Regions from separate parts of the Homo sapiens genome. Here regions 1, 2 and 3 are each linked to region 4. The links come from fine-mapping of genetic effects on gene expression. A gene starts in region 4. Each other region holds a variant in brackets. All regions are shown on one strand. Distances are between the middles of the regions.

Region 1 (5,745 bases), 140 kb before region 4:
AGCCCGACCTCCCGGCATCCCTCTCCTGTGCCTGTGTGTGCAGGCAGTGTTCACTCCACCCTGGACTCAGCCTCTTGGACAAGCAGGAAACAAGCCCAAAAGTGGGAGGCCCGAGACTTGGCTGTTGTCCATCTGGTGACAATCACCAGGGTGAGGCTGTGACAACCCTCACACTCGCAGCCCAGTGGGCCCAGGGTGGGAGTGCTGTGCCCAGGTGTGTGGATGTCTTGGGGCTGCTCTCTCGCATTGTGGGGCCCCCAGTGCGCTGGGCAGTCAGGAGCCTCCTCCAGTGATGCCAACCTGCGCCCTGGACTCCATCTATGCCCAGGCTGGGTGCCATCTAAAACACTGTTGGCCAAGCCTTGTGAACTGGGCCACGTGGGTCACAGATGAATAGGACACAGGACCTTCCCAAGAAGGACAAAGGGCCAGTGTAGGACAACAGAACCAGCCTTGCTGAGGTTCTGCCAGCTGGTGGCCATGATGGGCTGCCCTTGGTCCTGGCCCTGCCAAGGGGACAGGAGGGGCTATGTGCAGGCCACACCGCCAGTGACCGTGGCTTACTGGCCGCCATGGTGGGCCCTGGTTTTTCCAGGGGGCCGGACCCACAGCACTTGGAAAGGTGCTTGTTTCAGGGGAGGAAGGGATTCTGCAAATTCCCAAAGATTGTTACTTTTTTGTCTTCTCCAAAAATGTCTATCTAACTCTCAAAATTTTGCAAGTAGATTCAGGGAAAAACAGTAAAGCAAGGTTGAGCTCTGTTTTAATACCAAGAATAAAAAGAAGGACCCAAACCATCTAACCACACACCAACCTAAAACAATAGATAAGTTCTCAAAGGAAAGCCCTGGCCAGGTCTCATGGGTGTGCAGGGCAGGACCCTTGGGAAGCAGAGATTTGTTTAGCTTGATCCAGAGCTCAAGACTGGGCAGTGCAGTCAGGGAGGCCTGGGTATGCTCCTTCCTGGTAGACGGAAGGATGGGGAATTAACGTAAATCACTTTATACGTGTGTGCACACAACACACAGGTGCGTATATGCACACACACACATAGAAAGGATGTCCTCTGGCCCCTTCAAGCTACACGTCTGTGCTTGAAGGGGGTGAAAGGCAAGACTGGGGGTCCCACTGGCACACCCCACCTTCTAGCCTTTCTTCCTTGCCCCACTGCAAACTGGGGCCCCTCTGCAGCTCCGGGAAGGAGATTTGCATAGCTCTGCATGGGGCCAGCTGTCATGTCCTCCGTGGGCATTGGCACCTGTCTGGCTTGCGGCTGCAGAGCCAGGTGGTCTGCAAGGCATCCCTCCCCAGCACCCTTGGGAGGAAGCCCCTCATTTGAGTTGGGTCAATCAGCAAATTTATTTCAGGTGCGGAGCAGCAACACTAAGGCAGCCCAGACGTGAGCCGGAGGCCCCATCCCCGGAGGTGCTGAGTTCGGATGAGGCAGAAACACAGCATTCCACCCCTGACTCCCCTCCATCCAGTGAGCGGGTGGAGGAATGCCCAGCCTGTCCACCTCTTTCACTCTGCACAGCGCCCTGCCGGGCAGGCTCTCCCCAGGGCTGGGTGGCTGGTCTGCCCTTAGTGCCGGCTGCTGGCAAATAGGCTGAGCAGGGATCCCTGAGGGCGCCGGCCTCCTCCGTCATTGCCACTTTACGAGGGTGTCCACACAGAGTCTACACTGCACACTCTTCCTTCACAAGAGGCCTGCCAAGGCCGACCACAGGGCTCCCATACAGCCATGACCACCCCAAGAGACGCCCTCAGGCCTGACAGCTGCGTGCACAGGTCTATTTCAAGGTTGGCCTTGGGGAAGGGACTATCGGCTTTTCACTGAACCAGGTAACCAAGCCTGAGTCAAGAAAAGATTTCAGGACAGTGGAAATATTTTACTGTCACTCAGGAAGAGAAGCAGAGTCCCTGGATTGCATTAAGATTTCCGGAACTCTGTTAAGAATTACTCCCAGAGCCCATTCTTGTCAAGGTGCAGCGGTCATCAAGCAGCCTGGACACCGGGTCTCTGTCCTGATCCTGCAGGGTCGTCCTGTCCCCACCCCATCTCTGCCTCCTCATCTACAAGATGGGATTAGCTGGTCACTACCTCTATGCCACAGAAAGGGGCAAGCAGATGGGGACACAGCCATGCCCTGGGGAACCCTCATTAAAAAACCCAGGGCTCTGTCCCTCTGCCTCCATCCTGCAGACACCAGAAGCAGCCCCCTGACTGAGGCACAAGGGGGCACACAAAGGAAGCTGAGCCCACCGTTCCCCTGCCCTCACAGACCCAACGCAAAGCAGGCCCAAGCGATGGGACGAGGGAAGTTAAACTTGGTGATTCAATGACCCAGCACTCCACATATTTCACGACTGCTCTGAGACCTATTTTTTGACTGGATATGAGTGGATGGCTTTTTACTACCTAAGAATGAGCCAAAAGTGAATTGGTTTAAATTTTATCTAAAGTACAGCAAAGAGCAAGTCCCAGGGAGGAAGTCTGGAGGGGTCGTGCACGGAAAGCTGAGGTTGTGTTTTAATTATATGCCACACACTCTATGTTTTCAATATGGCAGGTGCCTATAAAACACACAGCAATCTCAGTAGCAGAAATGCACGTCTGTATCTTCTACGAGCATGTAAATAAATACACATTGTGAAAAACTGTGTTAGGAACACTGGCAGCCTGCGAGGAGGCCGTAAGCCCATAATACTGTTCTCAAATGACAGCATTGCCTAGTTTACTCCCCATTACCTTGAGAAAACATATTAAGATATTTTTCATATTGAAAACAGTTGATCTTGTAAAAAATCAGATCTTAAAGTCTGGCTTTTGAGATAAACGGATTTACATTGTTCCTCATGAGTGCTTCTTAGAGGAGATATTGTTGATGATCATTTTAAAGCCCCCAGTCACAGACACACACCCCGGAATACCTGCGACAAATGTTTGTGCCTTGCCCTAAATAGTTTTCTTAATAACCGGCACTCTTTCACAGTCA[T/C]TGATTTTGCAGGTACCTTGGAGGTGTGTGGGTGGCACCAGGGGCTCACACACATAATTGGGTCTGCGTGTCAGCCATTCCACCGTGGAAGTGCTTATTCTACGGCTCTCCGGGGGCCACTTCCAGGGTCCACTCTGACATGCTTAAGTACTCTTTGCTTTGGGCCTCTCCACAAACTCTGATGATGTTGTCATAAACTCCTCCCTTGAGTGGCAGACAGAACTAGTTTATGGAGGAAAATCAACAAGTGTAAGACCATGGGCGCTAAAGTACTTCGGGGAGCATGCAATGTATTTCCGCCCTCCGAGAGAGGCACGGCGGTAATACCTTTCTGGGCAATGCCTCTATTGATCAAACCCAGCTCTGAGATGTGAAGTGCTCCCCAGCTCCCCAGTGCCCTTCAATGTAATTTTCCTCCTGGCAGTGATGAGAGACAAAGAGAACTGAGAAGGTCGCATGAAGTCTGGAAGGAAGCAAAAAAGCCTGTGCTAAAAACTCCCACGCCAGTCAGCTGACAAGCATTTATTCACTGCTCTTATAGAGTCCAGCACGACCGTCCTTGCTGGTGGGGAAGAAGTGAGAGGAAGTACTGTGAGCAATTAGACACTCCTCTCCTCCTCTCTCAAAGGGCCGCAGGGACTGGGGAGGGCATCCAGGGGAAAAGTATTCAACACCAGCCTCTTGAAGTCAAACCGGGCAACAAAATATCTCTTTAAGAAAAGTGTGGCGGCCGGGCGCCGTGGCTCACACCTATAATCCCAGCACTTTGGGAGGCCGAGGTGGGCGGATCACGAGGTCAAGAGTTCAAGACCAGCCTGGCCAAGATGGTGAAACCCTGTCTCTACTAAAAATACAAAAATTAGCTGGGCATGGTGGTGTATGCCTGTAATCCCAGCTACTCAGGAAGCTGAAGCAGAGAATTGCTTGAACCTGGGAGGCGGAGGTTGCAGTGAGCTGAGATCACGCCACTGCATTCCAGCCTGGGTGACAGAGCGAGGCTCCATCTCAAACAAAAACAAAAACAAAAACAAAAACACACACCAAAAAAAAGAAGAAAGAAAAAAAGAAAGAAAAGTGTGGAAAGAAAAACTGTCCTATCTCCTGGGCAAGTCTTAGCTTCAGAAACTCTTGGAACTCAGCAATCAATTCGCCCTGTTTCCCTGAAAGAAGGGGGAGGTGGGTTTGCTTGTGCCTGACCCGGGGTCAGGGTCCTGGAAGCTTTTCCGTATTGCGCTTCTCAGTCATTAATCCAGGCCCGAGGCACCTGTTCTCCTAGAGTGCCTGGAAGGTGAAGACTCAAAGGTATCATCATCACCTGGGGTCAGGCCTCAGCTCAAAGGCAGCACCAGGATGCGGGTCCAGTTGATGGCATATGCCATGTAGTCATCACACACCCTAAGACCAGCAAATGCTTCTTACATTGAATGAAGTATCAGGAATTTATTTATTTATTTATTTAGAGACAGGGTCTCACTCTGTCATCCAGGCTGGAGTGGGTTCACTGCAACCTTCAAGTGATTCTCCTGTCCTTCAAGTGATTCTCCCGTCTCAGCCTCCCGAGCAGCTGAGATTACAGGCATGCGCCACCACACCTGGCTCATTTTTGTATTTTTAGTAGAGATAGGGTTTCACCATGTTGGCCAGGCTGGTGTCGAACTCCTGACCTCAGGTGATCCTCCTGCCTCGGCCTCCCAAAGTGCTGGGATTACAGGCGTGAGCCACTGCGCCTGGCCCAGGAATTTATTTTAACATTCAAAAGAGTTTGTTTCTTTAAAAATTATTAAAATAAAGAACTACTCTAGGAAGTCAAAAGTGTCTAACTCATCAAAAAGTTATTAGAAATATATCAGTATCTCCCAATGCAAAAAGTAATTCTGAAAGTCAGTCCAATTTTAATTCCATAAATATTGACCTCCTTTGACCTCAGTTTCCTCATCCATAAAAGAAACTGTCTTGATTCTCTTCCAGTTCTGGGATTCCAAGTGTCAACATGATATCTGGAAGCGTGTGGAGTAAATCCCAAAGGAACTGGAGTTGCAGCCCTCACCATGAGGCTGTAAGAACATGCGTCTTCTGGTTTCCTGCCCGGGGAGGAGGGGAACCCGGGGAAGTGAATGGACCCCACGGGGGAGGAGGGGAACCCGGGGAAGTGAATGGACCCCACGGGGGAGGAGGGGAACCCAGGGAAGTGAATGGGCCCCAAGGAACAGGGAGAGAGAATTTCACCTTTCTATTCTGAAAGCCGAGAGCAACCGCTCATGCATTTGAAACCAACCTCCTCTGATGATCTTGGAACTAGGCAGGAAATCTCTTAGGCTGAGGAGGGCGTTGACTCACAGATGGTCTCCACCACCCCTGAGGCTGGAGGAAACTGGGAGGGCTTGGAGTTCTCGATTGTTGTAGACTACAGCCATTATGAAAAGGGTTCATGAGGAGCATCCATATCACGCGTGCTCCACGCGCGCTGGCTCCGCTCGCAGCTGGGAGCAGACCCTGAGACCAGCTCACGCGAGCCTTGCTTGGTTGGACATGCACGCCTGTCCAGTCGCCTCCATTCTTGGGGAGAACACCCAGGCCTGTGCCAGCCATGATGGTGGTAGGGTGGCAGGAGCCAACCGGGAGTCACTGGAGCCCTGTTTCTGTGTTTGTCACAATCTAGTGACCCCATTTCCATATATGAATGGTTTCACATCCAAGAGCATATAAGGTCTCATCCACTTGCAGAATTGTTGTAGAGAGAATAATCAAT
Region 2 (5,745 bases), 110 kb before region 4:
TCTAAAGCTGCATTCACATGTTGGGTATATTTTATGGCAATAGCCCACTTCTCAGCACCAGTTTCTGCCTTAGTCTCGTTTGTGCTGCTAGACAAACGAGCTGAGGCTGGGTATTTTATGAAGAACAGAGGACAGAAGTCCAAGGCCAAGGCACTGGCAGCTCTGTTGTCTGATGCAAGTTCCTGGCCACTCCACCCCAAGGAGTGTGGAGGGCCCAACCCCTGCTCCTGTGTCTGGAACATGGAGTCAAAGAAGGTGATTCTCAAACCTCGAGATGTAATGCCATTTGCATTGTTGGGTATTGAAATTACTTTGGATCAGCTACTCTTTCCTTCTTGCCTATGTCTCCTTTTTGGAATCAGGATGTTTATCCTATGTGTGTTCCACCATTGTATTTTGGAATCGGATGACTTGCTTGATTTCGCAGGCTCACAGCTGGAGGGAAATTTTCCTCGGAATAAATCACACTTTGGGTCTCACTCATATGATGTTTAAAAGACTCTGCGCTTTTGAGTTGATGCTAGAACAAGTTAAAACGTTTGGAATTACTGAAATGGAATGAATGTATTTTGCGTGTGGGAAGGACTCAAGTTTTGAGGGTCAGAGTAGAATAATATAATTGAATATGTCCCCTCTAAAATTTAGAAGTTAAAACTTAATGGTCATGTGAACACATTAAGAGGTGGGGCCTTTAGGAGTCGCTTAGATCACAAGGGATCCTCCCTGGCAAAGGGGATGGAGGCCCTTATAAAAGAGGCTTCTCGCACGGTTATCTCCCACTTGCCTTTCCCCCTCCTGCCAGTGCTGTGAGGACACAGCCTCCCTCCCCTCGGGCGGATACAGAATCACGGCGCCATCTTGGACGTGGAGGGCAGCTTTTGTGGTCTCATGACCTGTTAAAGGCCGTGCCTCTTGACACCATCACACTGGCAACTAAGTTTCAACACATGAAACGTGGAGGGGACACATTGGAACCATCACAAGAGGTGAAAGAATTCCTGAGAGTCAGGCCCACCACCCGCATAGCTGGCTTTGCCTCCCTGGAAAGTGAGCCCCCAAAACACATCCCACTAAACTCAAACTAAATGAAGCACCTCCCTTCCCCCAGCTGGGTCCTGCCACACCTACAAACACTCCACCACCACCCACAAGGCAGGGACAGCGACAGAGAGGGTCACGCTGGGAACAGACAGCAGCCTTCCTGAGGCCATCGAACATCCGCAGATTTTACACAGACACGTGATCGTGGGAGCACAGCGCCAAGAGTTCCCCGGGGTCTCGTAAGGCGCCAAAAAGGAGGGTCCCAGTACTTCAGTTTCATTCATTCATTATGGACCCGTCACTGCCAATGTAGAATTGTTGCTTTACTTACTATTTTAACAAACGCCACAATCTTAGAAGCTCTTAATAAGCATGATTTAAATGGCTGCAAATAAAAAAATATATAAAAATAAAATAAATCAATGGCTGCCAAATATTTCTACAAAACATGGACTGCAATTTGCTCTGCTGCTGCTGTTGGGCATTTGGACTTCTTTTTTATATTTAATCTCCGAATTTTACACTGCATTCTGTGGGATGTCCTCATGCGTCCTTCTCTGCGGGACTGTAATGACCTTCTAAATGCTCAGCTGTGAGTGAGTTTTTCAGAGCTGCCGGCTTTGCTAAACATGGCTGCTCTTTTACCCCACGTCCACCACCACGCTGTGCTGAAGGCGCATCCATCGACCTTCCTCAGAGACGAGGAAAGAGCCAATGAAAGATGCTAGAAAGCTCTAACAAGTCCCAGGGCCACGTGGGGGTCACGGGGGCTGGTTCTCTCCAGATCCTGTAATGCGTTTCCGATGACTGCTCCTTAGGAAAGGTCCCATGGACAGAACTGCTGGGTTAAACAGACAAACTAATTAAGAGTCTCGATTTATATTAATCCATTTCTTTCCAGAAGCGTTGTACCAAACTGCATGATCACCAGCTGCACGTGAGCCTCCCGACCACATGAAGGAGCACAGAGAACGTACACGCTCAACTGATTGTAACAGCCCACGTTAGAAACAGACTGATGCCCCCAAAGCAAGTAGGTATGCGCATGTCTGCACCGTGGGGTACCACAAAAGCTGGTAAGGCCGGAACTTTTTCGCCGGGCGCGGTGGTTCATGCCTGTAATCCCAACACTTTGGGAGGCCGAGGAGGGCGGATCACCTGAGGTCAGGAGTCCGAGACCAGTCTGCGCAACATGGTGAAACCCCATTACCACTAAAAATACAAAAATGAGCCAGGCGTGGTGGCGAGTGCCTGTAATCCCAGATACAGGGAGACTGAGGCAGGAGAATCCCTTGAACCTGGGAGGCGGAGGTTGCAGTAAGACAAGATCATGCCACTGCACTCCAGCCTGGGTGACAGAGCAAGACTCCATCTCCAAAAAAAAATAAAAATAAAAAACAGATTTTTTCAAGTTCACTACATTTTGGTCTTTAAGGTACACTGCTAAGTAAAACAGTAACGTAGCGGAATTCAAGTCAATAACATCCTCTCCACATTTTCAGGAATCCATAGGCTTGCATGGAATACACTGGAAATATTCTGATTATCTGATTATCAATAGAAGTTTCCAATATGAGAAGAATAGGGTTGGGAGGAGCTTGATTCTATAAGCTTCTAAATTGTTTCCATTTTTAAAATAAAATATGTTCATTTTTTACAGTTTATTTAGAAAAAAGAAACACTTAAATAATTAAGTCTGCCGTCTGTGGAAACGTACACCTCAGTTTTGATTGCTTCATGATTCATATTAACCAGGTGCCATCCTAAGTGGAAGTTTGAGTGAAGAGGTTTATTCTGGTTCACAGATTGTGGGGACAGAAGTCAAAGGTCACGCCGACACCGATGTGCTTGATTTATCACACAGCTGCCAGGAATTCCACTTACAAATTCAAGAACCATAGACAACAGCCCTCAAAGCTTTTCAATGACAGCAGTGAC[G/A]CCTTCTCAGGAGTAGTGACAGTGTTCATGGATATGCGTATACCTGTCTTCAGCCCTCCGAGCTGCGCTCTCTGGGTTACAGAGCACAGCTGGGTGGTAGATGACCTCACTTAAGACTTCCAGTACGTCCCACTGCACTCTCGCATGGGTGACAGAGTGAGACTCCGTCTCAAAAAAAAAAAGACTTCCAGTATGTCACAGTGGTGACCTTCATGGTCTCGTCACTTAAGATCAGCTCACTGTTTAATGAGGCTGATGACAAAAAAGCACCCTAAGACCTCTTTGACCAGACAGCAAACTGCCTCTGGTAGAACATCCAAGCTGGCCCCAATCACAGGTGCTCACGTCTCTATTTTAAGGGAATGCATGCACAGGACTTCTCAGCCTCATGGGAAAACGCCCCCGTCATGTCAACCGTTCACATTCGAAGATGGTGCGTCTCTCCCATGAGGATGAATGTGGGTCACCGCAAACGATTCAGGGACACATCTGCTTCTGGTTTGTGGCCCTGCCATACCGAGTTTCAGAGAGGTTGGAATCCAGAGGCCAGTAGGGGCCGGGAGGTGGGGAAGGCACTCTCCTAACTGCTGCTTCTGCTCACATCCCGCCGGCGAGCGCTAGCCCTGGGGGCAGCCTGGGAAATGTGATGGCAGCCTCCCTAGCCACTTTCCACTTCAGACCTCCTCCAAGTGGGGGGTGGGCATCTTAAGGGGACAGCTGGCTGTCTCCACCGCAACCCAGCTGGGAGGGGAGAGGCGTGATGTCACATTAGGTCACACTAGGGCATGAATACGTGAGTCCCCACAAAACCCCAAAGTAGGAAGCTAAGCCCCAATAGGACGATATGAAGAGGTGAAACCTTTAGGAGATGTGAAGTGATGAGAGCAGAGCCCTCATGGATGGAATGAGCGACCTCATGGAAGGCCCGAAGGGAACCAGCTAGGCCCTCTTAGCCCTTGCTCCCTCCTGCCATGGGAGGACACAGCAAGGAGGCGCCATCTTGGAAGCCTGGTGGCTTAGCACTGGGCCTGGGCCTAGCTAGGGTCTTGGCAGCTCTCATCAGGCACCAGATCTGCTGATGCCTTGGTCCTGGACTTTCCATTCTCCAGACCTGTAAGAAAAGCATTTCTCATCTCTATAAATTGTCTAGTCTAAGAGTATAGAGGAGCGGGAACAGACTGAGACAGGTCACAAACCAGCAAGTGGGCTGGCCCGATGGCCCCACCACAAGCAGGCTCAGGAAACTGGCACCTGCCCCCCCACCCTGCCCCCGCATCTACATGGCCTCCATATGCACAGCTTGAAAATGGGGATGAGGATGAGTCCATCCACCCCAAATGCCAGAAAGCACCTGTCAAAGCCATTTCCCATGTACAGTGGAGAAACTGTCCGTGATGGTGGGTCCTGGCTTCCCAGCAGCGGTGGCCACAGTCACTGTGTGGGCTCCAGTGGGGCACGGAGCCAGCTCAGATCCAAAGGTGTGTGTCCTCAAATCAAAGGACATCTGTCCAGTGTCCTTCCACTAGAGGCTAAAATAAACCAATGAGCCTGCGGGTAAGGGAAGAATGTTTCTTGGGGCAGAAGACTCCCTTCAGGGAGAGGCCCCGATGGCAGTGGACTTGTCCCTCAGCCCCTTCACAGCCTGGCCCCAGGCAGAACAGGTTGGCTGGAGAGAAGAGCCCACCTCTCGGTTTTATGAACAGGCAGAGGAAGGGATCCTTGATGGAGGTTCACACCATCTCTGACCACAAGCCCAGTGGCCTTTCTGCTTGAAGTCCAGGGTCTTGACCATGGGGTCAGGGCTCACGTGCTCTGCAGCTGGATCTGGTCTAAGGCCCCTGTCCCTGGACCTGTCATGCCCTCAACCCCTGCCACCCGGCTCTTTCTGGGGCTGCACTGAGAATCCAGCCTCTCCCAGACCAAGCGGCCCATGGCATCAACTCAATGGCAGCCTCTCCCAAAATCCAATTTCATTACACCTGGCTTTACTGCCGTTGTGACTGACAAGTGGTCCCCTTAAAAAGGGAAAAAGAAGGTTAATGCTCGCAATTCATCCTTTTATCCCAACAGCTCTCCTTTATGGAACGCCACATAATTAACCAGTGACGTGCACGCCTCATTGTGAGGCACAAATCAGATGCATCCCAACTCTCTGCTGTGTCACTTGCTTCAGAAATGTGAAGCTATGAAACCTAAACAGGTTTTCAATTTCTCCTAATGTAAAAAAAAAAAAAAACAGCAATAAAATCAAAAAGTGAGAGAAAAAGGGAGAAAAAGTTAGACTCTGGAAATAGCATCCTTCATGAAACTACATTAGATGTGAATTATTCCCACAATGATTTCTCTGTGGAATTGCCTCATTCCAGCCTGTATCTCACATTAGGGAATTTTGTAACAGGCTGAACTTTTATTTAAAAATGCTTCTCTTAAGTAGCTCCAGTGCAGCCCTGGGGACGTGGAGGTAAACGCCGCCTTCCATGGCCTTCCCTTGGCAGGGCACATCCTGGCCTGGGGTCATGGGGCCACCCTGGCATCTCTGACTGCCACTTCCTGGAAAGGCAGCATGTCCGCAGCCACCTTGCTGAGGTCACCTGGTCTTGGAGGCTCAGCACGGCGGACCTCATCCTTCCTAAGAGGCTGCAAAGGTTGTTTTATCCAAAAGATGTTTTATGCAAAGGGTGCAGGAGACGGGAGGCTGTGGGAGCCCCTGGGATGGACCCAGAGTTGGGAAGCTACGACAGAGGGCCGAGGTGGTGACTGCCCTCC
Region 3 (5,745 bases), 160 kb before region 4:
TTAAAGCACTCTTTCAAGACGTACAAGGCCCTCTTTTAATAATGAATGTGACCTGATCAAAGGAGGAAATGCAATTGCCAAATTCAATCTTCATTGTCTGTAAATACAGCAACGTTTTACAGACTCAACTCCATATGGACCTTGGAGATTTTTCTTTTCCCAACATCAGTTGATCCAGTCTCTGGATAATGCTGTTACTATTTTAAATGGAATAAACATTTTAAATGTGTGATGTCTCAATCTTAAAAGACTACCACCATGTCTCTTAGCATGGTTAAAAATGCTGATAAAACTTTTATAATACTGTCTTCTGAAGCTTCAGTCAAATACCTCTGGATTTGACACAAAGTGTGAATTACCATCATCTAGCATTAGCCCTCAATGACGTGAAATTAAAAATGCCACTAAGAACCCAATAGAATACCACACAAAACTAAAACAAAGAGTCAAGCTCCCCTTTCACTGGCCTGGCCTTGTAGCCAGGCATCTCTGCCTCTCAAGTTGGCAGGGAGCTCCTGCTCTCAAATGTCTGCAGTGGAGTCAAGACCGTTTGAATCCACATGCTCTGGGAGGAGGGCTTTCCCCACGCAGCAGCTAATAAAATATGTATTAGATCTAATCGGAAAAGATCCTTTGTGAAAATGCTGAAAGTTCCTCTCTGTTTCTTGGCGAAACAAGATTTACAGGCATTGTCAGAAACAACTGCCTCTGCCAAGCACCCCATTCCTCTGCAGCTGAAGAAAATCTCTTCCCCTGTCCGTGACCAGGGTTTTATGGAATTGAGGCATCCATCCAAGCACAACAGCAGATCAATGTGCTGCAAAGGTCTAAAGTGAATGTAAGGTGGAAGAAAACACACTCCCATCTGCGTACATCTGGTCTCTGAAGTGGCGTTCATAAGACATTTGGAACAAGAATAAAATGCTGGGTAACAGTGATGCTGGATGGAAGCTTTGAGGGGCGGAGGGAATGAATGGCCATCTCTGCGTTAATCACCTTACGTGATGCAAAAAGACAGCCAGAGCCGACCGCTTGGAAGGATCAAGGTTTCTGCAGGAAGTGCCATAAAAACTTGATTACTAAACTCTGCAATCGGGCACAGGATTCCTTAATAGTCAATTTTCAACATAACCAAGAAGAAACATGCTTTCACTTTACGTTCATTAGAAATAAGCAGCTTAAACACTTCAAAGGAGGTGTAAATAACCCAGGGCTTAGTTACTTGCTGGTGCCTCCAGCTTGCGTTTGTGGGGCGGGTCCTCAATGATCCTGTTGAGGTCTCCGCGGTCCTTCAGGTCCATGGGCTTCTCCCAGACAGACAGGTGCATCGTTGGGTTGAAGAAGAAAACTCGGTCATCGCCCGTCCAGACCACACACCTGTTTGAGTGGAAAAACTCATCTCAGTCGCTCTCGGAGACACTTAATTAGAAAGTCGTTAGCATGAACTCTCACTGAAAAAGCCCCTCAGGACCGAAATCCACACATTTGCAAAGCTTGTTTATGGATAGTATGAATACTAAAGACAAAGCCTGCCTTTTTAGGTGACCTTACGGATCTGACTCATTTGATTAACAGGTAGACATTCTTATCACCAGCCTTAGACCAGGGAGAACAACAACATTCAGAGAAGCCAAGCAGCTCATCAAGGTCACAGGCAGGCAGAGCTCTCTCCAGCCCACCAGCTGTCACTGCCTCAGTGAAATTCCATTCCAGATGCAGAGCACTCTGGGGCGCCTCCTGGCCCTGGTTCCGGCAATAGAGTAATTCGGAGAGCGGCTCCCTACACTTCCCCAGTTGAGCTCTGCATGGCCATCAAGCAATGCGCACGGCCACAGGTCATTACCCTCCGGCAGCAGCAGAATTAAAAGGGCTGCTGTCATTAGCAACCACAGCCCCGGTGTCCTGCTCATTTGTGGATGGGCAAATAAGGAAGATTTGTATTTTCATTTATGGAAACTGAAGACATCTAAAAGGAATTATGTGCCCTTTTTAAGCCCCTTATCTGTGAAAAGTTATCAGAAAAGATTAAAAAGAAAAAAAAATGAAGAGAAGAAAATTAATGAGAGGGAAGGAAAGGAAAAAAGTCCCTCCCTAAGGAATGCGGGTCCGGGAGCCTGCGGCATGGAGGTGCACGGGAGACTCTGCACTCTGACACTCTGACCCCGCGCTGTCCCCACGAGCAAGCGCGGCAGATAAAGGCCAGCAAGGCCGGCCGGGGCTCTGGGTTTAACCCCTAAGTCGTGTCAGGGTGCT[A/G]TTAGAGATTGAGGCCTGTGCTGGCACCGAGGCCCGTTCCAGGTGTGGACCTCCCAGGAGGTTCCCCTGGGGCAAGCCCCCTCCCCTCTCTGGGCCTCGGCTTCCTGCAGTGACTTCAGAAGGTCCCTCTGGCTCCGCAAGTCTCCTGGGACTTTTCAGATGTGCAGGAGTGAATGGGTGGGAACACCCACATACCCACCTCTAGCTATTGACTTCCCCGAGGGAGGCCCCCGACCTGTTGGGGGTACTGTCGGGCACGGCCTAGGCCCCCGGTAGCCCACTCACGCCTCACTCCCGCCAGCCTCGCACAGGTTCGGGAGGAGCTGGGGATTCGTGCCAAAAGAAGCCACTCTGTTCTGCATGCAGAAAATCACTCCACACTTCACTCACCCAGGCACGTTCCATGGGCCAGGCAGAGGGCTCAGGGCCTGGGGCCCTGCATGTTGGCAACCCTGGGCAGACCAGGACCCCTCCCAGAAATCACCCTGAGAAGGTGTGCCGGCTCCACTACTCAGCCCAGCCACGCTCATGAGTGTGGGAGCCAAAATGATGGCTCCAAAGACGTCCACGTCCTGATCCCTAGAACAGGTGTGCATCACCTTACATGGCAAAGGGTCTGTACAGTTGGGATTAGGACCCTGAGATGGGGGAATAGCCTGGTCATTCAGGTGGCCCCAAATGTAATCACAAGGGTCCTTCTAAGAGGGAGGTGGGAAGATCAGTGAGGAAGAGATAGGAAGATGGAGGCAGAGGTGTTTCACACAAACACACTCTCAGAGACACACACAAACACACATACACACAAACAGACACACAGAGACACACATGCACACAGACATAGAGACACACACATAAACACACAGATATACAGAGACACACATGCACACAGAGACACACACATGCAGAGATACACACATAAACACACACAGACACATACACAGACACATGCACACATATATACACACACAAAGGGACACAAATGCACACATATACACATGCACAGAGACACACACATGCAGAGAAACACACATACACACAAATACAGACACACAGACACACATGCACACGTAGACACACACAGAGACACACATGCACACACACACGGAGAGACAGAGATCGGGAGATGCCTGGCCTTGAGGCTGGAGAAAGGAATCACGAGCTCAGGGTTGCAGGGGCCTCTGGAAGATGGAAAAGGCAGGAAATGGACCTCCCCATAGGCTCCAGAAGGATCCAGCCCTGCCCACACCTTGACTTTCGCCCAGTGAGACCTGTGTCAGACTTCTGATCCTCCCAACTGTAAGAGAATCAATGTGTGTCGCTGGAGCCCTGAGTCTGTGGGAGACGAATCAATGGGCTTCCCCCTCGGGGCGACTCTGTCCTGAGCACCAGCATCTGGGAGCCCTGACCTGAACCCCAAGTGTTGTGCCTGGAGGCCTTGGCCACAGCTGGCCTGGTCATCCATGTGGGAGAATATGACCTGCCCTTCTGCCTGGCAAACTTTCCAGCTCCAGCCCTGCCCTTGACCTACCAGGTGACCCTGAGAAGGTCGCCTCCCCTCGCTGGTGGCCTCATGCCCTCAACCCTTCAGATGGGGGGTGGAATGGGAATTTGCTTTATCTGGACAGTCCACCCAACTAGGGAAATGGACCAAGATAGAGTGTATCACACTCCCATGCCAGGTCCTGCCCTCAGGGGAGCGGGCTCATGGGCCCGTGGGGTGCTGCCCAGGCCCATGCTGGAGGCTGGAAAATGAGGCTGGCCAACTACAGCAGACTCCACACCCAGGTAGCTGGATCCCTTCCTGCTCTCAGATCAGGCAGACCATTGTCCCCAGCAAGCCCAGGCCAGGGATACCTGACCTCTGGGGCCTGCAGGGAGGCTGTGGGTATGCATTTATGGTGCAGAACCCGGCTAGCATAGGAAGTTTTTATTGAGTCTAAAGCTGAAGGTAACCACACTGTGCTGTAAATTATGCACAATTCAGCTACTATATGAACTCTGCAGACAGCATGGGCCAATAGGGAACATAAGCCCAGGGTAGAGACTGACTCCTTTCCTCCAGACGCAGACCTGGTGATGACCTGCTTCCCGGGTGGAGCTGTGAGTGAGTGGGCCACAGGCAGAGCCTATTATTAGCTCCCCACGAGGCCTGGGCTCTTTGGCAACACGTAGGACGTGGACAGTTTTACTACTGCGACATTGGGCTCTGTCTCCAGGCACCCCTCTTGCAAGGAATGCAGCTAGACTCATCGATGAGACCCTGATGCCAGCGGGGGTGCAGGGAGTGAAGAAACCCTGAGCCCGCCTCCTCATGCTGTATGTCTCATGCCCAGCATGTCAGGACCAGAGGAAGCCCAGATCCGGCCCCTCAAGGGCTTCAGAAGCTTCCATGACTGGACAGTGGCTGGAAAGGCAGCCCCAAGCCTGAAGCTCCCAGCAGCAAGAGGGCCCATTTCTAACAGTATTGCTTGGGATGTTTTTTCATGATGTTTTGCTGCAACTGGTCTGAGTGGCAAATCCTAGAAGCGTCCTTGGCTCTCTGTGTTCCTCTCTAGCAACTTAAGACTTAAAACCTGTTGTGTAAACCCATGAAGGTCTCACCAGGAGCCTGACCTCACCTGGAGAGCACAGAACAACTTCCTGTGACCTGGGTACAGCAGATGGACCTGTTGAGCACCATGTTTCTGGCAGGAGGCCATCTGGCCCCCAGCCTCCAACGGCCTCACCCAGAGGTGGGGGGACCTGTGTGCTCCTCTAGAGTCACTGAAGTGTGGGGATACTCAGCCAGGGGCCAGATGCTCACTGAGGCATCTCCAGTTCACTAAGAGCTGCTAGGTGCACACAGTGTCAGGCATTCATACTGCATTCCACAAGCAACAGGGCCACGGGAGAATTATCCGGAAGCCAGAGGCCTCGGGACACAGGCTCAGACTGGCTGAGTGGCCCCATCCAATCCCAACCCTCCCACTGGCTTGGGGAGCTTTCCTAACTTGGTAACTCGCCAGCTTTCCTGAACACCCAGGGGTGAGCCCTGAGCCAGTTGAGGGCCAGAGGACTGGGGGAAGAAGAAGCTGAAAGAGGTGAGAGGATGACCCATTTCCTGGCAGGGACCAGCAAGAGCTCTGTTCTGCCCACTGCAGAGTTTAAGAGAAACAGGACTTCAACTTTGGGCCCCGATAGCACACGTGGATCTCCTGTCATCCTGCGCTAGGCTGAGGGCAGGTCAGTGGCTGTATGAGTCCATTCTCACATTGCTGTAAGGAGATACCTGAGACTGGGTAATTTATAAAGAAAAGAGGTTTAATTGACTCACAGTTCCTCATGACTGGGGAGGCCTCAGGAAACTTACAATCATGGCAGAAGGCACCTCTTCACAGGGCAGCAGGAGAGAGAATGAGTGCCAGCAGGGGAAGTGCCAGACTCTTATAAAACCATCAGATCTCATGAGAACTCACTCGCTATCACAAGAACATCATGGGGGAAACCACTTCC
Region 4 (5,745 bases):
GTAGTCAGTAAATTTGAACCCGAAAGCCAAAACAAACCATTAGAAAGATGAAAACTTAAAGCATCATATGAAGAAAAACTGACTTTTAAAACTTCAACTGGTATTGTGTAATGTTCAAGTCTAGATTTTTGATCAATGGATACAAATTTAAAAACAAAAAAATTTTAAAAAAGACTCTGATTCAAAAATTGGAAATTTTACATTGCCCTGTGGAATCCAAATATCCTAAACTAAAACAAAATGCCCCCCACCAGCTGATATTTTTGAACAAATCAATCTAATCCTGAAATGATTTATTTCTATACCTAGATGGCCAATTTATGGCAACAAGAAAATACATGGGTATTTTTGTTGTTATGTCGATGTTCGACAACTTAATCATTAAAAGCCCCTTATCCAATTAAATCACTTGCGTTTTTACCTTACAGTTAGGAATCCTTTTGTCTATCCAACTTTTCCCAATAGGGGTTGCAAGAGCAGAAGGGCAGAGATGTGGGAAGACGGGCACCAGCTCCACTGTGGAAGAGGGGGGCAGTCCTAGGGACGGAGAATGGCCACCAAACAGCCACTGCAAGCCAAGCAAGAAAAGACAGCTGCATTAGCCTGAATCCATCCACTCGACTTCATGCCAAAACATGCTGGAATAACTGCTTTGAAAAGGGAATTTCAAAATGTATGTATTTGATTATCAGATAAATTTCCTCGAGAAAAACTATAAGTATGTACCAATCAAAGAAAAAATTATAGAAGTTTTCATATCTGAATCATCACAAAGCATTACCAACATTGCATTCTTCAATACTGAAAAAGAACTTCTAAGCACAAAACCACAAGCACGCAGTAAGAAATGGGTTTCTGCTCTGAGATAATGAGAAATCACCATGAAGAAGAGAAATGCTGGGTATTCCTTTTCTAATTCTTAAATTATTTTTATAGGCAGGCTTAGGGCTATATTTTATAATATTCCTTTCAGCATTGCATTTTGTATTAATTACTTTTGTCGTTTTACAAATAACTAATACTTTCAAAATGAAAATATCTAGGAAGTTAAGATTCCAAGTTTCACCAATACAAGGTTCACCAATACAAATAGATTCTATGGCAAAAAAAAAAAAAAAAAAAAAAAAACTAAGCATCTTCTAAGTTGAAGATCTCAATACACAGAATAAAACATCAGTCATGGAAAGGGGCTGGTAATTCAGGGCACCGTCTCTCTAATTAAAATAACTGAGACCTCATAAGGCACTAATAAAATGCATTGCTCAATGACATGGAACGTTTCAGTACCTATTGTTTTAAAATCGTAAAAGCATTTGTGATGTTCCTGTTACATGAAAATGTTCTTCTGGTTGTACATATTCTTACTTTACAGAAGCTGGGTAGCACAAAAATATTTAAAAGATTAATGCTAAGGTTTTTTAAATTTTCTTTTAAATTTATATAAGTGAAAAAATGCAGTTTTTTAAAGCAGAATTTAAAAAATGTAGTTCCTTGACATTATATACCTCTAGTGGCAGCACTCTGATATAACACCCCTCCAAAATACGGCAAAAACTACCAACGTTTCTTGAATAAAATCCAAAATAAACTGCATCACACATAAAAATACAATATCCAGTGCTGCATATGTGATGTATCATTAAGTCTAAAGACCAATTTAGCAGGAGTTTAACAACATCTTTTAGAAAAGCTCACAAGATAATATTGGAATTAAATTAATCAAATGGTGTATTCTAACATAACACCCGTTTGAATATGCTAATGAGGTCAATCCTTGGAATAAAATGCACGCTATTCCCTGATTTAAATGCATCTGCATAGTTAGCTGACAATGAATCTTGCCCAAACCAGCCCGCCTAGCTCTGCTGCACCATTTATCAAAGGTTCAGTCACTTTTTCTTTTTAATCCCATGTCTTAAAAGCCAAACTCTAGTTCTAAAGTGCAGTGTGGCATTAGCGAATGTGGTGGACTCCGGCAGGCCTGGGGCAGGGGAATCTCCGGTAACATCCCTCAGTACCGAAGGCAGGATTTCCCGGCCACTTCCGTCGGTTGGAATTCTCTTAAGCATTGCCCTGAGTCTATTTTCAAATGAAAGGGGGAAAAACCCAAACCAGATTAGAATCTGAAACAGCTGAAACAGCTATCGATTTCCAGCTTGCTTTCAAGTCTGGCAGAGACTGTGAAAGTCCTAACTTCTCCGCGATGTCAGCCACGGCCCGCGGCGGTCACGGAGCCACTTCAGCACCTCGCGATGGACAGTGACCCCCGGCGTGGCGCGAGTTCCCTGCGGTCCCCACGCGGGCCTGGGCGGCGGGTCCCTCCACGGCTCCGTCCAGACACCCGGAGGCACCTGCCAAAGCTGCGGAGGTGGACGACCGGGCGTCCAAGCACGAACTTTCTCGCCGAGGCACGGCTGCCGGGCTCCGTCCTGAGGGTTTGGGGCGGCGAGGACCGCCGGGGAGGAGGGCGCGCGAGCCGGAGGCCAGAGCCGGGCCGGGCAGGGCGCGCCCAGGAGCAGGGGAGACGGCGACCCGGGCCGAGGCGGGACGGGGACACGTTACCTGCCCGTGGAGCGCGGGGAAGGGGTGCGCGGCGGCGGCGGCGGCGGAGTCTGGCGCAGAGGGCAGCGGCAGCAGCGGGAGCACCGGCTCGCTCGGGGCCGGCCAGCCGGGGAGACCGGGGAGCAGCGGGGCCGCGGGCGGCGGGGCCGAGGCGAGCAGCACCGGGGGAACCACGACCCCCGCGCTGAGCCGGAGCAGCCCGGCCGAGCCCGGCACCATCCAGACCCAGGGCGGCGGCGGCGGCGGCTCTGCGTCCATCGGCCAGAGGAGAGGCTGCCGCCGCCGGGGCTGCTGCTGCTGCAGCTGCCGCCGCCGCCGCTGGAACCTGGCGCCCGCCTGCATCCTACATCCCCGCGCTGACGGCGGCGGCGGGGGCGGCGGGCGCCCGAGATGCTGGGCCGGCGGCGGCGCGGCTCCGGAGCGAACTCACTTGGCTCCGCGGCGCGGCCGCTCGCTCCGCCCCTGCCCCGCGCGGGAAGCTCCTCCTCCTCCCGCCCGCGCCGCCGCCGCCCCCGGACCCGGCCCCCGCCCCGGTCCCCGCCCGCCCGCGCCCCTCCCCGCCGGACCCCGCCCCGCCCTCGCGCTCCCCGGCCCTGGCCGGGGTCTCCTCCCCGCTGCGCCCCTGGACCCGGGCGGCCGCGGAGGACGTGGGTGGGAGAGGGCCGAGGGCGCGCCCGGCTGGGCTCCCGCCGATGCCGGCCCCCTGGTGGCCTCTGGCCCTCTGGGACCCAGCGCACCGCGAGGGAGGCTCCGGGCTCCGCACTCAAGGGCAAGCGGAAGCCGAGGTGGCGGCGCCGGAGCCAGGCATGTCCCGCTGCCCAGCGCGGGGCTGAGGGCGCAGACGGGGACCGCGCGAGCCGCTCTCTACCTGGCCTCCTCGGAGTCCAGGGCGCGGAGGGTACTGGGCTGCGGATCCGGCGCAGGCGGCCCCGGACGCTGCTAGGCGCGGGCGGATTTCTGTTGCACAAATGGGCCAAACAGGTTCGTAAGGCCCCCGCGGGTCCCCTGGCCCGGAAGTTGAGCCGCGGGTGCCTGGTCTGAAGTTCCGCGCCCCACAGTGGCCCGCGGGCCTCGGCGGCTCCTGCCCTACGCCCTCCAAGGCACCAGGCAGGTGGCCCCAGGGCCTTTGCCCACGACACCCCCTGGGTGGGGCAGGACCACCCCTCTGTGAATTCGTCCTGGATGCCCCCAGGCACAGTCTGTACTCCTCCCTCCCCCAGCACACGCGGCCTCTGACGCTGCACGCCGAGCTTCCTGGGACCCAGGACGAACCGGGCTCCAAGGACCCTCGCTCCGCCCGGACCACACGCAGGCAGCGCCGGCCGAGCCGAGCCTGGGTCCGCACTGGCCACGCGCAGCCACCGCCAGACGGCGCTAGCCCTCCCCCGCTGTAGACCCTGCTTCGGAGGCCGCCAGCCTCCTCCCCATCCCGGGTCCACAGCTTCAGTGCAGCCCCTGGCGACGCGCGCTGACAGCTGGGCAGAGACTTCCGTGCGCTGTAAACCCCTTAGGTCGCTAAACCCAGGAAACCCAAGCACAGCTAATGCCAGCGCGAGACCAGTGTTGTTAGAGGCATTTGAAGGGTCTTTCTGGATGCAAAAGGCAGCATTATGATCCATGCATTTAAGAACTTGCATGAAAAACCCTCCCTGACCTGGGTGGGAGAGCAGGCACCCACCCACCCAGCGGCACTGACACGCCTGGTACTCCAAACCCGTGTTCGCATCACCTCCCACCTGTCCACTGCCAACCTCCTGAGATGGCCTAAAGCACCCGAGTGCTTTTAATTTGCGTCTAGGGTTGTTTCCTCATTATCCTGATTTGCTTAATTTCCTCTTGGCCTGGCCTGATTTCTTTTAGATCTGGGCATATGCTGATTTACATAGCTGGCGCCTCCATATTTTCCTCCACGAAAACCAGTTTTCAATTAGCAAGTTTATCTCTCTCTTTGATGCAAAAGTACTGGCATTTTTTTTATTCACCTAAAATCAGAAAGCTCTGCACATTAGAAGGCTGTTACTATTCACTTACACCCTTAATTTATGTGCATATATTAGTATGTGCACATGTGTTATAAATGTGTTAGTTTAATGGTCAGAGCCAGATCAGGATATTGGGGAGGCGTCTCCAGGCAGGCTCACATGCCCCTGCCACCCCCCACCTCCCCCACCGCATAGTCCCTTTTGCACAGGAGATTCTCCTTCCTTCTGCTTGGAGGCAGAGACAGAAGGCCAGGGGTGCTCGTGCCTGGCTTGCATGCTGTTCTCTGCAAAAGCAGGGTTTTGCGTGTGTGGCCCCCAGGTTCCTGGGAAGGTAGGGTTGGCCACAGTCTGTGGGAGCTGTAGCACTCCTTTGGGGAATCCCAGCCCCATCCCCACTGTCCTAGAAAGGGTTCTGCTGAAGTCCGTTTTTGCCAGCACCCCTCCGGGCTTCCTGATGCTCTGAGCTCAGGACCCCTTGAGCCACTACTTGGCTCTGAAGAAGAGCTGGAAAGTCGAAAGCAGCTCTTGACTCAACCACAAAGCGGCCTAAACTCTTGCTATTTCCTGCCACAAGCTTGACTCTCCTTTTGTATGACAATGCTTGGGAGCCCTTTTCTGTACCATTCTGTGTGCTAAATTATGGGAAAACAGCCCTCAACGACGCAGGCACGGCCATTTCCACTAATCGTTGCTAGGGCCAAGGACCCAGCACAGGGCTTCTCCCCCTCCTCCTGGCTCTCATTTCTGTCAGATTCTTTTCAAGGTTTGCCTCTCATCCCGTTTAACCCGGGAACCTTCTACACCCTCATGGATAGGAGAAGCCCCCTCATAGATACACTCATTTCAATGATTGTTTAGAAGGACCGCCTCCATGAACCGGTTCTGCAAATGTCATTTGTACATCTTGAGGATGGTTGAAAGAGCGAAGGCAAAGAAGATGCAAAGAAGACAGCTGTCACACAAACAAGCAGGATGCCACCTTCTTCCTGGGGACCAGAAGCCAGGTGAATGTCTAGCTTTGAGCTGGGACTCTCTGCCAGAGAGATGTGTGCTGGCAGGCACATCTCCCTCCCTGTGAGTGCCCCCAGAGGTCAGCCCTGGGCAGACAGGTGGCAGGCACCCCATAAACTCGCCCTTTGTTTCCCTGTAAAAATCAGTGAGAAATTTGCTTTATAAAGCATCTTAGGTACAGTCTAGTCTC

Alleles and levels. Alleles are on the strand shown, and positions count from the first base shown. SD is a standard deviation of normalised expression in the study named. Not every link is listed here.
For the expression in thyroid of the gene that starts at base 2,990 in region 4, C is the high allele of the variant in region 1 and T is the other (moderate effect, 0.68 SD a copy in GTEx).

The links.
Region 1: its variant is fine-mapped to the expression of TCERG1L in thyroid (GTEx, PIP above 0.99).
Region 2: its variant is fine-mapped to the expression of TCERG1L in thyroid (GTEx, PIP above 0.99).
Region 3: its variant is fine-mapped to the expression of TCERG1L in thyroid (GTEx, PIP above 0.99).

What each region holds. Positions count from the first base shown.
Region 1 is chr10:131,167,142-131,172,886 of GRCh38, forward strand. All of the region lies in intron 4 of TCERG1L (transcription elongation regulator 1 like), which reads right to left. Among named protein-coding and RNA genes, the nearest start is that of TCERG1L-AS1, 75 kb to the left of the region's middle. RefSeq lists an enhancer at 165-665. The variant T/C (reference allele first, on the strand shown) is at 2,997.
Region 2 is chr10:131,200,165-131,205,909 of GRCh38, forward strand. The region is part of intron 4 of TCERG1L (transcription elongation regulator 1 like); the gene reads right to left. LOC105378563 (a long non-coding RNA gene) reads right to left here. Exons shown (of 5, transcript XR_946484.1): 4 at 4,355-5,745; 5 at 2,389-4,090. Among named protein-coding and RNA genes, the nearest start is that of TCERG1L-AS1, 110 kb to the left of the region's middle. The variant G/A (reference allele first, on the strand shown) is at 2,980.
Region 3 is chr10:131,145,284-131,151,028 of GRCh38, forward strand. It overlaps TCERG1L (transcription elongation regulator 1 like), which reads right to left. Exons shown (of 12, transcript NM_174937.4): 7 at 1,223-1,377. Among named protein-coding and RNA genes, the nearest start is that of TCERG1L-AS1, 53 kb to the left of the region's middle. RefSeq lists an enhancer at 1,867-2,368. The variant A/G (reference allele first, on the strand shown) is at 2,254.
Region 4 is chr10:131,308,732-131,314,476 of GRCh38, forward strand. It overlaps TCERG1L (transcription elongation regulator 1 like), which reads right to left and starts at 2,990. Exons shown (of 12, transcript NM_174937.4): 1 at 2,563-2,990; 2 at 422-568. The coding sequence starts at 2,904. LOC101927461 (a long non-coding RNA gene) reads left to right here and starts at 3,125. Exons shown (of 3, transcript XR_242763.6): 1 at 3,125-3,543; 2 at 5,403-5,548.